2 linked regions of the Homo sapiens genome follow. The protein of the gene in region 1 interacts with the protein of each later gene in a biochemical or structural test. Each region holds a gene or a part of one and is shown in the gene's direction. Other genes may lie near its edges.

Region 1 (3,660 bases):
TTTGTGGTGCATTTTAGGGTACATGGATTAAGGACCTGCCAGCTTCCCTCAGCCCATCACAATATAGAACCAGGGGTTGGCCAGATAGTAAATAGTTTAGGCTCTGGGGCCATGTGGTCTCTTGTAATTACAGATCTACCTTTAGCACAGAAGTAGCCATAGACACTATGCAGATGTGTGAGTTGGCTGTGTTCCAGTTCAACTTTATTTGCAAATACAGGTAGCAAGCCAGATTTGGCCCAAGAGCCCTGGTTTGCCAACCCTGCTTTATGGTGAGGTAAGGTCTATGGGGCGTTATTTTTGCTCCTCCTTCCACCTTTCGTTTTATACTTCTGGGTGTTTTGAAATTAAAGTGAGATGAATGTGGCCATTCCAGTAGTCTACAGTTTGACCTTGACATACTGAAGTCAAACAATTTTTTTTTTTATATTTTCCTAAGTTACATTCTTGTTAGGTAGCCTTTCCCCTTTTTGAGACAGATGTAAGAAGAAAATGTTTTTTACTTTATAAGCTCTTACTTCAGAAGAGGGTAATGAGTTTTATACTGTAAACACTTCAGTTGGAACTTAAAAGATATTGAGATATATTCCTTTTTAATCAGGCAAAACTGGAATTGAAATTTATTTGGGTAGCTAATCAGAAAACTAATCAATCAAATGTTTTTTTCCTTTTTTTTTTTGAGTGCAAAGCTGAGACCCGACTCTTTATTTGGATGGGCTGTTCCTTTACCTTATCATACGTTAATTGATGTAATGCCAGGTCAAGAAACAGCATTTTCAGTTAAATGAAATACTGTGCTGCTGTTAATAATGAGTCCTCTGCAGATGTATGGCGATGTCTTTGTGAACTATAATGAAATGTGAGAAGAATGTAGTCTTCATATGATTAGAACTGTCTAGGAATGTGTTTGATACAATCATAAGGATAAATTGCCTTAGACTTTTTACCTACTGTTAATGGGAAGAGATTTTGGCCTGAATTTTTATTGTCTTCAGGAAATTTCTGTTTTATCTTAAGGTTGGTTAAATATATAAACAACGATTCAGTAGGAATTTTTAAAATCCCTAATGGACTTCAATATGAAAAGAAAGTAAAGAATGTTTTTTTCTAAGCCTTAAGCCAATACTTAGCACATTTCATACCATTTTAGCAGCACTTGTCAGAAAGAAAATTTTAAAAATATAGTGGATTTTGTTTGGTTGCCAGAATGCACACTTAAACTTGTTCTGCAATTTTCTCTTCATTTGATCCCCAAATGAACCTCTGGAAGGTAGCCTATTCTTAAGTTTCCTCCTGCACTTTAAAATCACCCTGCTTGCACCTCTTCACGTAGGTCTTTGAGGAGATGTGCACCTTGTCTTTGCCAAGGTGTGCCTCTGGCTTCCTCCCCGATGGTTTCCACAGCTTTCCTTCTCCTTGCAGCAGGCGTTTCCACTTAATAGCTGCCCTGTCAGCATCTCTCTAGAGATCCCATCCCAAATCTGTAAACCTTCTTGGCTTTTTTTTTTTATGAAGATAAAATATGTAACAATAAGACACTAGACCATATAGTAGTTATCCAGTAAATCATAGCTGTCATCGTTGTTGCTATTTTAGAAATCCTACATTTTATCGTCTTGCATGGTCCGCTCCTTTTTGACTACCAACTTGCCCATGTGTTTTCTCCTAAAACACGTTGCTCAAGTTGCTTGTCCCTGGAGCCCTGGCATTTTCTCCTCCTCACCATTGTTCTCATACCTCTACCATGGGAACCTTGGCAGCCTGCTTTCTGGCCCCATCTTGCCAAATGCCCATGTAGCTACCACACCGCGGCTTTTTCTTGATCTCTGTCCTCTACCCCATTGTCATTCTGGACAAGGCAGTCTCCCGATTTTCCTTGTCCTATTTGATGATACGTTTTATATTTGCTTCTCTGACTTTGAGTCCTCTTGTTAGCCCCTAAATGTTTGTACTCCCCAAGGTTCTGCTGGTGATCTCCTTTCCTCTCCCCCTCCACCCTTTCTATTGATCTCACCTCCTTCTCAGGCTTCAGAGAGCCGTCTGTGCAGGTGACTATGAAATGTGTATTTCTCATCCACCTGCTTTGAGCTTAAGATTTACATCTGGAGAGGTCAACCTAGGGGAGCCATGGCATCTGAGACTCAGCGTGTCTTAAACCAGATTCATCTCTTACTGTCCTCACCAGCTTCTCCAGCTCTCCTTTTAGCTGTAGTGACAGTTGCACTCTCTCAGCCACCAGATTGTGGTGCCCTTCTTCGCCACATCTTGCCTTCATTCTCCACATTGCATTCGTTGCAGTTTTCAGGCTTATCCTTATAAAGTATCTTTTCTTCCAAAAATTGCTTGTGTATACATATGCATAGAGAGATATCTGGAAAGAAATTCACCAGAAAGTTTAATTCACCATCCAGTCTATCTCTGGGTAATGGGATTCTATATTGTTCAAGCTTTTTTTTTTTTTTTTTTAAATAACAGGCCTTGATTACTCATGGACTTGTGCCCAGTGTATACCCGTCTATCTCCTCAGCACTCCCTTGCCCTGAACCCCATCACTGGGGCTCAGTTGCTGGTTCATTCATTCTTTGTACCTCCGGTCATCATTTTCCGGGTGCCTTTCAAGTAAACTTTCCTTAGTGAAACCCTTCTTCCAGCTGAATGTTTCTTCCTTTCGTGAGCCCTCTGGTCTCTATGCTATTTCCTGTATTCTGCCCTCTGCTCTCCATACATGTGTATTTTGTGTTCTGTCCTTTATTAGATTGTAAGCTCCATGAGGGCAGAGTTTGGGTCTGATTACCCATCCTTTCCCCCTTTTGGTTACAGTCTCCCAGTTTTTCTTTGGGAGACAACACCTTTTCCCCCTGGCTACAGTTTTGGTGGGATGGGCAGTTCAGGTGTCCTGCCAACGAGATACTCTTCTCCTGGAATTTGAATTTTGAGTCATGGGATACAAGGACTGACAGTGATTGGCACTGATTCAGCCTGGCCGAGGTGCTCTGAAGAAGCCACTCATTAGTTCCTGCCTCCCAGATCCCTGGAGCTGCCCTGGTCCCTGAACTCTCCGAAGCCTGGTTCTTCAGATATTCCTCGTATCTGTGAGCTATCTCATATCCTTACAATAAATTCTCTCTCTCTTTTATTTTAAGTTAACCAAAACCAGCTTCTGTTGCTTTTACCCAGCGATTCCTACCAGTAGAGCTGTTATGATTGGAACTGAGCAGACTTAATCATTCTAGCTCTTATATTAATTCTGATGCTTTTTTTTCTTTTCTTTAAAAACACAAACAAAAACAGCCAGAGACTGCTGCTACTTTGAAACGTACGATAGAGGCCCTGATGGACAGAGGAGCAATAGTGAGGGACTTGGAAAACCTGGGTGAACGAGCGCTTCCTTATAGGATCTCTGCCCACAGTCAGCAGCACAACAGAGGCGGGTAAGTTTCTTCATGAAGTCTTGAAAGACGTTTTTGATAGGCTCAGTAAAGAGTACTGTTCAATTACTATTAGAAGTTCTTAAAATTTCACATTGAGACCCCTGTTGCGCCTAGGTGTCCTTTGGGTACACACTCTGGCAGTCTTGTGTTGCAGATGGGATGTGATATGCTGGCCCTTCGTGGACTATGATCTGAGTTCAAAACTAGGCCATCCTAGGAGCAAAGGGCT
Region 2 (3,446 bases), on another chromosome or scaffold:
TTTTTTTTTTTTTTTACACAAGACGTGGTTAAGAACTGTTTGTGAACTGAAGTTCCTCATAGTGTCATTTGTATGAGAGAGGATCATGGACAATGAATAAATGCACACTTCTGACTATAATTTTGAGCAGTGAAGGAAGGATGACTGCCTGTTACACAGAAACAGGAATACCATGTTAAGATAGAGGAAAAAAATTTTGTTTATTTGGGGGAACACTGTAAATAACGTTTATAATACTTAAATACATTTGGTTGTTACTAGAGAGTTCTAATATGAAGGGTAGTTTTTCATTATTTAAAAACACATGGAAAAATATGAGACATATTTCTAACATACGAACTATAGTGCCTGGATACATTCTTCAGCATTTGGCAGTTAATCTGCTGAAACCAAAGTAAGAACTGAATGACAGTGACAGTTGTGTTTTATAGTAATAGAATGTGAGAGTTAGAATCTTTGGACAAAGTTAGGCTTTGTCATTTGCCTATTCAGACTTTTACCAAGTTGTACCTCGAGATCACATGTCCGTTTTCTTTCACTGGTTATATTAAAGGGAGAGCTATTATTTCTAAATACTTTACACCTTTGACAAAATGAGCTGCTTGTGTTGAAATCAGTTGAATTCACTAAATTATAATATTGCCAGTGTTTTCAACACGTTAGAATTGATAACAGGTATTTTTCTTTTGTTACCAGGCCTTGTTCATCAAAACAGGTGACAGTGAGTAACCAAATGCAGACCAGTTCTATGCAGGATAATGATAAATTCCCTTCTAGCTCTATTGTAAATTGTTGTACAGATGTCATATTTCAATTACTAAGTTTCAGCAGCTTATTCTTGTACAAATGTTTAAAATATGGCTTTTCTAATTGGATATTGTATTTTTTTTAAGTCTTCTTGAAGGCACTCTAATTGCTGCTAAATGATGTTGCTTCTTTGCTAAAAAATTAAATGACCTAGAAGGTGCAAGTTGACTGTACATCATAGATATTAAAAAGCAGACAGTCATTAACAATCAAGATGTAAAAGTGATCCATGTTGGACATAATTGAGTTTTTAAATCAGTTTATTGGGTTCTAGGGCTGTAGAACACATAGATACTAGATTTTTAATTTGTTCATGGTTATTCTACATTTCTAGAAAGTTCTTATCAGCAAGATGGTCCCATAAGCAAATTTCTTGTGGTTTGTACAGATTTGTTAAAATGTGAACGTTTTCTAACTGCCTCGTAGGGTAGAAACCAATATTTTTCAGGATGCTGTATTTCACTCCTGTAAGGACTTTTTCTTTATTGTCACATTCATAATGCTGATACTTACATGTAAGTTGTTCATGTTGCAGAAAAAGGTTATACGTACCACGGATTCTCTTTAATATTGTACAGTTAAACTGTATTTCTGATGTTGCAAGCCATTTTGTTTTTTCATTGTACATAGACACATTGTCTCTTTAAAATGCTGCTGAAATTGTAGAGAGTATAGCCAAAACAGTAATAAACAATGACAGTTAAAATGTAAAGACTATGAAAATTACATTGGAAGGGAGCTTTCAAGATGGTAGGATATTGACTAACTGAGCTCCTTCACTTAAAAATCAGCTGAATAAATTCCTTAAGTATACTTCAAGACAAGTGTAAATTGTTTCAAGCTGTTAAAGTTAAACCTAATAACCATTATCAAGGCAACTCCTGGGTAAGTAACACTTAGAACCATCAAGAGTGGTTTAAGGGGCTGGCTATACCCATTCCTCTGTAGAGCACAGAGAAATCCTATTAAAAAAAAAATACTACATGGTAATGAAATCTTAGCATTGATTGAGTGCTTTACGTGCTGCCTGCAAGTTTTCAGTTTTGTTGTTAGAGTTTTCGTCTTTATGAATGATAAAGTCCTATGTTCATAAAGTAACATTTAAATTCCTGAACTAAAAGGAAATGCCTGTTGTGCTTAAAATTTTGGGGAGATACGAAGTGAATGTGTAAATCTAACTTTGAGGTTCAGTAAGTTAAGTAGTATAGACCTAGAGATCACTGCTTTACCATTTTACTTTCAAATGAATGAGAGCGACTGCTAGTGGCAGAACGCAGAAAAGGGGAAAAACAAGCCATGAAATGAAGTTGCTTTCCTGACCTGGGTTTAGGTCATCATTTTAAAATCAAAGATGTGTAGGAGATGAATCAACTTATAGACCCATATTTTCCTTCTAAAAGTTTCCCAAAGAAATGTTATAGATTTTGAATAACATGCCAGTGACCCAGCAGGTCCAAGATGGCTAACCAAGATGGCTAATTTAGCCACATTGAATAACTTACTTTTACCCTCACATGGAAAGTTGGTATCTATTGCTAAATGATTTCAAGGTCACTCTGACAGTCTTTGACACTGTTTTTTTTAGGGTTTTATTGTTTTCTGGTCTCCTGGTGTCTGTCCTCAGAATTAAAGCATGTCCTGCATCCCTAAGATGATAGCCAAGGCCTCTCTTTTATTAAGAGTCAGCACTGATGTAGGGTAAAATCAACAGTTTTTGCATATGATTTTAAAATCTTTCTTTGATTTGAATTTGCTTTAGTGTGTGCATGTTGAGAGGAAGTAAGTGTAGAAACCACCCTAATTTGTAAGTTGGGAGTTGGAGATACTTGGTGGTTTTTCAAAAATAAAGACTCAATCTTTTTTTTTTTTTTAAACACTCACTACCATCTCCTTCTAAAACAACTCTGTCAGTTTAAATGGCATATAAAATGTGAACAAACACCTCATTACATGAAGTCAAAATGGTGAAGAGCTTCAGTGAAACATTTAAAGAGTATATTGTGTGTTGTTTTGCTGTTCATCATTACTTATTAAATGCAGTAATGTTGATTGCCCTCATGCTATTAGCTGTGTTTTAGTTGTATAGTACAGTTCACCTAGATTAATTTACTCTTAAAATTTAATTACATTGCTGTTTGATTTTTGTGTGAATGTTATAACCTTACTTACACATTTAAAAGCCCATTGACAGGTCTTTCTTTAATTCTGCCTTAAGTTTTGACCTGTTAACTGATGATTTTTCATCTACATATACTAAATTTCAATGTTCTGAAGATTTAATCTAATTCAAAAAGTGCTTTTAGGCTGGCAGTGATGGCTCATACCTGTAATCCCAGCTCTTTGGGAGGCCAAGGCAGGTAAATCATTTGAGGTCAGGAGTTGGAGACCACCAGCCTGACCAACATGGTGAAACCCCATCTCTACTAAAAGTACAAAAAAATTAGCTGGGCATGGTGGTGCATACCTGTAATCTCAGCTACTCAGGAGGCTGAGGCAGGATAGTCACTTGAACCCCAGAGGCGCAGGTTGCAGTGAGCTGAGATCATACCTCTGCACTCCAGCCTGGGCGACAGGGTGAGACTCCATCTCAAAAATAAATAAATAAGTGCTTTTAGCAGCTAGTTTTAGAATTAAATTGG

Evidence for each region. The genes of interacting proteins can lie anywhere in the genome.
Region 2: the proteins of MRPS6 (region 1) and TLK1 form a complex in vitro, tested with the Homo sapiens proteins (one large-scale study listed by BioGRID).

Annotation. Positions count from the first base shown.
Region 1 is NC_000021.9:34,122,050-34,125,709, forward strand, and holds part of MRPS6 (small ribosomal subunit protein bS6m), read left to right. Parts: intron 1-3,291; coding exon 3,292-3,431; intron 3,432-3,660.
Region 2 is NC_000002.12:170,990,238-170,993,683, reverse strand, and holds the end of TLK1 (serine/threonine-protein kinase tousled-like 1), read left to right. Parts: 3' UTR 1-2,861; downstream 2,862-3,446. UniProt on the Homo sapiens protein: Rapidly and transiently inhibited by phosphorylation following the generation of DNA double-stranded breaks during S-phase. This is cell cycle checkpoint and ATM-pathway dependent and appears to regulate processes involved in chromatin assembly.